3 separate regions of the Homo sapiens genome follow, and all the other regions are linked to region 2. Evidence: fine-mapped expression QTL. A gene starts in region 2. Each other region holds a variant in brackets. All regions are shown on one strand. Distances are from middle to middle.

Region 1 (2,500 bases), 580 kb before region 2:
GCCACAGTTAACACTCTGGGGAAACACTCTCAAGCAGCACCACTACATGAGCTTTTCTACAACTCACCTCCTACTGAAGCCTAGATGAGAGAAATGATGTTTACAGAAGACCAACCTATAATCTGGGTCCTGTAAAACATATCCTTGGATAAAGTAGAAACACTAGAAGATTATATATACTTGCATTTAGTTAATTTATGTCTCTAACACATTATAGGCAGCATGAATAGAATGGTGAGGACACAGGCTGTAGAATCAGACAAGGTCTGGATCTCAATTGCTGGCTTACTCCTTACTAGCTACGTGACCTTGAAGAAATAGTTTAAATTATTTGAGGATGAGTTTCCTTATCATTAAATGGTCACAATGATACCTTTAAAAGATAGTTGTGATCATTAAATGTTCATGAGGGTTAAATAAAATAAAATATGCAGAATAAAATAAAATATGCACTAGTAGAGTGCCAGACACATAATAGGCACCCAGCAAATGTTAGCCCCCTTGCAATGCATTTTTATGTTATTGAGTAGCTACAAATTTTTGTTGAGAGCATTATCTTCATTTATTCTTATTGCTCCTTATCTATGGCCTCAAGCAAAACAATTATTTTGAATACAATCCTAGTAAAATCTCCACTTCTCTGTAGCATGTTTTTCCTTTTCTAATAAGAAATATGTAACTGATTGTGCCTCTTTTTATCTTGGCTGCCAGGAAGCTCAAAGACAAATTAAATTCAACTGTAGGAACAATATTAATCCTAGTGGTTCTGGATATTGTGTGTTCTCCCTGGTTTGGTTTCTATTTCCACCCATATTTTATTATTTCAAGACCCCTCAAATCTTTTGTAGAATGTGAGAAGCTATTAACTAGCCAACACATTAATTCATTTCTGGGAGAAGATATCACTGTAGGTACTGTAAAAAGAGCACCAGATTTGGAATGTTCAAGTCCTAACTACTTCTCATACTTGTCCCCTCTCTGGAGGTAATTCATTTCACCTTTCAGATCTATATTTTCTCATGTAAAGCAGAAATAATAACCTCTAAATATCCCTCAGAATCATTTATGTATACAAGTATGCTTTGTAACCTGTCAAGCACTATGTAAAGGTCAGGTATTATTATTTTTATAATCAGAGAAGTGAACATTTAAACAAGTGAAGGTGTCCACATAGACATAATCTATGGTGCAGCACTGAGGACCCCTGCAGGCAAACGTGAAAGATGTGTAGTGGTGGGCACCCACAGCAGCCACCATGCTTACCTAGGCTGTCCAAAAAGCTATAGCAGGGATCCCTGGAAGAGAAGAGGCAGGATGGAAATAAATGTAAACACTTCAAGGGGCAATCCAAATTCAGTAAGTATCTCAAGCTAATTTGTTCTTTTGCTTTTAATCTAACTGATTTGCTTAGAAGACAGTGCAGA[T/C]GAGACCATGGTTTGTTCCCCAATGAGCCTATGAGCTCCACCCCTCACTCTCACCAGGTCCATGCAAGGAAAGGTTGAGGGGAGCAAGGGGGCTTATAATGTGGGAACCCAACATCTATCCTTAATCCCCTACTAAGGACAGTGGATACATCACATAACTGGTACATCCAAAAGTATTCATATACTAATAATGTGAGTCAGAGTAGGGGATGTTTTTAAGTTCAGTTTGGGTTAGAACCAAGTAGCTCTTAATAATAAGGAGTGTGTTTCTACATTTTTAAGTAATTTGCTGATTTATTCCAGGAGGTCAAATGTTCTCACAGAATCCCCAAGTCTTTTATTCCAAAACCCATCCCCTTCACTAACAACTTAATGTAGCAGCCACTTGCCATAGAGAAGAGAAAGAAGGAAATTCCTAGTATTTTGGAAAAATAACAAGGTAGAAGCTGGAGTTAAAAGTCACAGGTTCTGCCGGGCACGGTGGCTCATGCCTGTAATCCCAGCACTTTGGGAGGCCGAGGCGGGCGGATCACCTGAGGTCAGGAGTTCGAGACCAGCCTGGCCAACATGGTGAAACCCCGCCCCTACTAAAAATACAAAAAAATTAGCCAGGCATGGTGGCAGGTGCCTGTAATCCCAGTTACTCGGGAGGCTGAGGCAAGAGAATCGCTTGAACCCAGGAGGCAGAGGTTGCAGTGAGCCGAGATTGCGCCATTGCACTCTTGCCTGGGGGACAAGAGCGAGACTTCATCTCAAAAACAACCAAAGGTCATAGGTTCAAGTCCCAGCTCTTCTCCTTGCTAATGTGTGAATGTGATTAAGTTACTTAATGATAATAACTAATATACACTAAGCTGTATTATTTGCCAGTGCCCTTTGAAAGCTTTATACTCAGGTAACCTTCACAGCCACCTGGTGAGGTATATTTCTTTATCATCTTACCTCACAGATCACGAGAATGGAGACTTAGAGCAGTCAAATTACTTGCCCACCATCAAAAAGCTCGTAAGTAAAGTATACTGGGATCTAAACACAAACTACGATTCCAAACCTATGGTCTTAACCACTGTATAATA
Region 2 (2,852 bases):
TTATAGTACTTCAGTTTTGCTTTTTCATCAAAATCAGAATCATCAGAAAGATCTGTAACAGCACAGGCAGCAGCAGAAGTCTTTGAAACAGACTTTGGTTTGGGCTTGGTGGATTTTGCTTTTGGAATCAGTTCTTTCTTTACAGCATCATCCTTAAGTGTCAACAGATGACGAATTTCTGAGGACAGCTTCTGATCCACAACGGACAGCTTGTTGATCAAATTTCGGTAGGTAACAAGCCTTTCTATGACAGGATGTCCATGTGCTGGGACTCTCCTAGCTTTCAGGATCAAATAAAAACTGATGTTCGAGCAATAATTCAAGTAGAGGTTGTACTTGGTCCTCAAGTATTGGCTTCCTTTTCCGGGTGGAATGATCCCTTGTTCCACCAACTCTAACAATGGCTCCAGCTCATCCTTAACCTCTGTCAACTTGACTTTCAGGTCTTCTATCAGCTCCAAGAGTTCTGGTGATTCCTTTCGCAACATTTTCAGCTTCTCTTTCACTGAAACTTTAGCCAAATCCTTCACGACCCGTGTCTCAGCCTCATCTACCTGAGGCACTGGTTTTGCAAAGGCCTCAACCCAGGCGACACCAAAATCATCCTCTTGCAGCGCTTGGGCTAGGCGCCGCTGAATGATCTGTGCCTCCTCCTCCTCCTCTCTTTCCTCCTCCTCTGCCTCCTGTTGACTCTGCCGGCCTCGGGACTTGGAACCATAGTCCGTGTCATAGTAAAGTTTTTTCCTCTGACCCCACGACAAACTGGGATCCACAGAGGCCTCAGCTTCACTTTGCACGGAGCTCCCACCATCATCATCGGCATTCTCCTCCTCCTCCTCCTCCCCCGCATTCCCTCCATCTTCGTCGTCCTCATCGTCCATATCTAGGGCTAGCACCTCCTCCTCCTCCTCCTCGCCATCCTCCTCGTCTCCACTCTGTACTTCATTCCAGCCCTTAGCTAAGGCGGCCCGGGATCGTGCCTCATGAAAGTCATCTACCTGATCTTGGTAGTAGCTGGTGTCCCCTGGTGAGGGTGGCAATCCTAAATCATCTCCATTTTCGTCGGTGAGCGTGGGACCTGCCTTGGCTCGCACAGCTGCCCACTTAGCTGCTCCGCGCCGCCGGGATCTCCCCACCATGGCTCACAATCTCAGGTTTTACAGCGACTCCGGACTTTCGGCCACCACTGACTTCGGCGCAGGAATCAGGCGCTCCGGTAACTCGTGGCTCTAAACAGCAGCGCGCTCCCCTACCACCGGAGTTTGCAGACTCCTGATCGGCTACTGGAATTTCCTCTTCCTTCCGGCCCCCAGCATGCTCTCCGCGTGGCGTACGATTGAGGACTTCCGCTCGGTCCCTTAGTCGAGATCACGTTGATACCAACTTCCTTTTCACTGTGCCCTTTAACGCCAGTCGATTCCGGTGAATTAAAATCTTTCCGTGTGGAAACGATAGGATAAGGAAGTTCCGTTCCACAGAACGCTTTCTCGGGCTAATGCGCTTACTCTCGAGTGCCTGGGAGTGGCTGGGGGACGGAATCCTGACGGCACCTCCAGGCGAGGTCCCGATGGCCAATAGAGGGCGCTGCGCTTTACGCCCCGGAGAAGTCCCGGGGGCGTTCCATTGAGGTTTAACTGCGTGTGTACCCGGCGCTTGCGACCGGCAGTCTAGTGCTAGCGTAGTTTTCCTGCTCCCTTGTTTTCTCTTTTCTGCTTATCAGGCTGGAAGTTAATCAGATTGCTTTCCTCTCATTTCACCCCCACCCCCAATACCATATTTCTGGGTACCACAGCCTCAGGCAGCGCCGCTGGACTCCAGAATCCCACGGGAGGTTTCCGGGCGAGAGCGCAGGCCGGGCCTCCGGCTCGGGTTTACTCATCCCCATCGCCCTCTCCCTGCTCACAGGGCTCGGTGACCCGCTCCATGGGGATCGATAAAGCTAGATGACCCCGAGGCTGACAGTGGGAAGGCAGAGCCCCGCTGCAGGGTCTGACTCTTCTCAAGGAAGTCTGCCCTGTAATGTTAGAGTAATTCAGGGTGTAAGTTTTTAGGCATTACATATGTAAGGTTCAGGGTTAGTATTATTATACCTTTTAATGTAGGTAGTTGGAAGCTGAACTTTTGATACGTTGCTAAAATTAATGGTGACATGGCTGGGCGCGGTGGCTCATGCCCATAATCCTAAGCACTTTGGGAGGCCGAAGTGGGTGGATCACTTGAGGTCAGGAGTGCAAAACCAGCCTGGCCAACATGGGGAAACCCAGTCTCTACTACAAATACAAAAAATTAGCGGGGCGTGGTGGCGGGTACCTGTAATCCCAGCTACTCGGGAGGTTGAGGCAGGAGAATCACTTGAACCCGGGAGGCGGAGGTGGCAGTAAGCCGATATCGCACCACTGCACTCTAGCCTGGGCGACAGACAGAGACTCTGTCTCAAAATAAATAAATAAATAAATAAAATAAAATTAATGGTGACAATTTCTTTTTCTTTTGTTTTTTGTTTCTTTTTTCTTTTTCTTTTTTTCTTTTTTTTTTTTTGAGACGGAGGCTCGCTCTGTTGCCAGGCTGGAGTGCAGTGGCAATCTCGGCCCACTGCAACCTCCGACCCCCTGGTTCAAGTGATTCTCCTCCCTCAGCCTCCCGAGTAGCTGGCATTACAGGCACGCGCCACCACTCCCAGCTAATTTTTGTATTTTTAGTAGAGACGGGGTTTCATCATGTTGGCCAGGATGGTCTCCATCTCCTGACCTCGTGATACGCCCGCCTCGGCCTCCCAAAGTGCTGGGATTGATTACAGGCGTGAGTCACCGCGCCCAGCCAATGGTGACAATTTCTTTTCAGAAAGTATAGTG
Region 3 (2,852 bases), 43 kb before region 2:
CTCTGTTGCCCAGGTTAGAGTGCAGTGGCGCGATCTTGGCTCACTGCAACCTCCGCCTCCCGAGTTCAAGTGATTCTCCTGCCTCGGCCTCCCACATAGCTGGGATTACAGGCGCCCGCCACTGCACCTGGCTTTTTATTTTTTTTAATACTTTAAGTTCCGGAGTACATGTGCAAAACGTGCAGGTTTGTTACATAGGTATACATGTGCCATGTTGGTTTGCTGCACCCATCAACTCGTCATTTATATTAGGTATTTCTCCTAATGCTATCCCTCCCCCCAGCCCCCTACCCACCGACAGGTCCCCAGTGTGTGATGTTCCCTTCCCTGTATCCATGTGTTCTCATTGTTTGACTCCCACTTATGAGTGAGAACATGCGGTGTTTGGTTTTTTGTCCTTGTGATAGCTTGCTCAGAATGATGGTTTCCAGCTTCATCCATGTCCTTGCAAAGGACATGAACACATCCTGTTTTATGGCTGCATAGTATTCCATGGTGTATATGTGCCACATTTTCTTTATCCAGTGTATTATTGATGGATATCTGGGTTGGTTCCAAGTCTTTGCTACTATGAATAGTGCCGCAATAAACATACGTGTGCATGTGTCTTTACAGTAACATGCAAATCCTTTCTTTTAAAATGATTTTATGGAGTAATAGGGAATCACTGAGTTCACCAGAAGTTTGTTGGATATCTACGATAAATAGTACACAGTACCATGGGGCCTTCTGAAGAACGCCAAAGAAAAGGTTTGCCCTGAAGAACTTTCTATATAATTTCAGAAATAAGGAATCCCATGAATTAAATAACTGGGGAATGATTTCTAGCATATTCAAACAAATGTCCCAGATGCTAACCAGTGATTCAGGACATGAAAGGTGTGAGATCTGTTAGAGAAGGACTTGTAGATGAAGGGAGTCAGGGGTCCATTACCCTTCCTGATATAACACGGGCATGAAGAATCACAAGTCAGAATAGTAAAACAAAAAGAATAATCAGGATTTTACTGAAGCACAGTCTGACTGGAACAGGTAAGTATGTTGAAAAGGAGTTTGAAAAAACATTGAAAAAATCATCCAAAGAAGGGCATGAGAATGCTTGGCTAAAAGAATAATGATTACCTGTAGCTACTATTTCAAACAATCCATAATCGTGAACATTACTGCTATCACAAACTGCTTTTCAGGCTAAGTGCGGTGG[C/T]TCATGCCTGTAATCCCAGTACTTTCAGAGGCTGAGGCGGGTGATCGCTTGAGCCCAAGAGTTCAAGACCAGCCTGGCCAACATGGCAAAACCCTGTCTGCACTAAAAATACAAAAATTAGCCGGGCATGGTGGTGCACATTTATAGTCCCAGCTACTCAGGAGGCTGAGGCAGGAGAATCACTTGAACCTGGGAGGCAGAGGTTGCAGTGAGCCGAGACTGCGCCACTGCACTCCAGACTGGGCAACAGAACGAAACTCTGTCTCAAAACAAAAACAAAACAAAACTGCTTTTCTTATTGCTTTTGTACATCTGCTTCAGAAAGCTAAATTTAGCATATAGAGGTGTCACTTGCCAGCCAGGTCAGTTTCAGCAGTGTACTATTTTTGCTGTTTGGTAGTATATGCACGATTATGTAAATATTTTCATTTACTTTATAAAAGTGAGTGAAAAGAGGAAAAAGAAAACATGTGGACAAAAAACTCAGTCTCCACTTTAAAAGATGGCAATCACTGGCCAGGCTTGGTGGCTCACGCCTGTAATCCCAGCACTTTGGGAGGCCAAGGTGGACAGATCACCTGAGGTCAAGAGTTCAAGACAAGCCTAGGCCAACATGATGAAACCCCTTCTTTACTAAAGTACAAAAATTAGCCGGGCATGGTGGCGGGCACCTGTAATCCCAGCTACTCAGGAGCCTAAGGCAGGAGAATTGTTTGAACCCAGGAGGCGGAGGTTGCAGTGAGCCGAAATCGCGCAGCTGCACTCCAGCCTGGACAAGAGCGAGACTCCGTCTCAAAAAAAAAAAAAAAAAGATGGCAATCACCAAGCATGTCCCAGCTGGGATGCTTTTGGCCTTATCTGCATGCTGACTGTACTTAAGCTGCCAATGCTGTGTTCAATTGTGTATAAAACTTCTGCAAATATGTCATCAGAGACTGGGAAGAAGACTCCTCTTATTACACGCAGGCCTATTGTTGGACTTACACTCTAGAATTCTGGGACAGGAGTGTTGTGTATGGGTTGAACCATTGGTAGTCTGAGTTTGAATCCTGCCTCTACCGGTTATTACACCCTTGAATGTCAGCTTATTTTACTTTTTTTAATTTTTGAGATGGAGTTTCACTCTTGTCGCCCAGGCTGGAGTGAGTGCGGTGGTGCAATCTCGGCTCACTGCAACCTCTGTCTCCCAGGTTCAAGTGATTCTCCTGCCTCAGTCTCCCAAGTAGTTGGGATTACAGGCACCTGCCACCACGCCCAGCTAATCTTTTTTTTTTTTTTTGTATTTTTAGTACACCATGTTGGCCAGGCTAGTCTTGAACTCCTGACCTCAGGTGATCCACCCGCCTCAGCCTCCCAAAGTGCTGGGATTACAAGTGTGAGCCACCGCGCCTGGCCAAATGTCAGTTTATTTGTAAATTGGGGGTAATAGTTGTACCTAGGCTCAAAAGGTTGTTGTAAAAATTAAATGAGAGAATACATTTTTAACACTTGGAGTAAATAATTCCTAGCGGAAAGTAACTAATCAGGCCAGATGTATATTTTATTGCATTCAACTGATCATCTGTGCATCACCTCTCAATGTCAGACTCCTTATCCCTAAAAGAAGGTTAATAGAAAAGCACATATTTTGGCTGGGTGCAGTGGCTCACGC

Which allele goes with the higher level. Positions count from the first base shown, and alleles are read on the strand shown. Sizes are in standard deviations (SD) of each study's normalised expression. Not every link is listed here.
For the expression in iPS cells of the gene that starts at base 1,285 in region 2, T is the high allele of the variant in region 1 and C is the other (moderate effect, 0.67 SD a copy in HipSci).

The links. PIP is the estimated chance that this variant, and not a neighbour inherited with it, causes the effect.
Region 1: its variant is the best candidate, but not a certain one, in a credible set for the expression of UTP3 in iPS cells (HipSci, PIP 0.71).
Region 3: its variant is the best candidate, but not a certain one, in a credible set for the expression of UTP3 in whole blood (INTERVAL, PIP 0.65).

What each region holds. Positions count from the first base shown.
Region 1 is chr4:71,269,783-71,272,282 of GRCh38, reverse strand. The region is part of intron 3 of SLC4A4 (solute carrier family 4 member 4); the gene reads right to left. Among named protein-coding and RNA genes, the nearest start is that of SLC4A4, 84 kb to the right of the region's middle. The variant T/C (reference allele first, on the strand shown) is at 1,425.
Region 2 is chr4:70,686,965-70,689,816 of GRCh38, reverse strand. UTP3 (UTP3 small subunit processome component) reads right to left here and starts at 1,285. Exons shown (of 1, transcript NM_020368.3): 1 at 1-1,285. The coding sequence starts at 1,139. RefSeq lists enhancers at 1,160-1,219, 421-1,389, 1,920-2,009, 1,390-2,360.
Region 3 is chr4:70,730,201-70,733,052 of GRCh38, reverse strand. The region is part of intron 1 of RUFY3 (RUN and FYVE domain containing 3); the gene reads right to left. Among named protein-coding and RNA genes, the nearest start is that of RUFY3, 9.7 kb to the right of the region's middle. RefSeq lists an enhancer at 1,386-1,635. The variant C/T (reference allele first, on the strand shown) is at 1,202.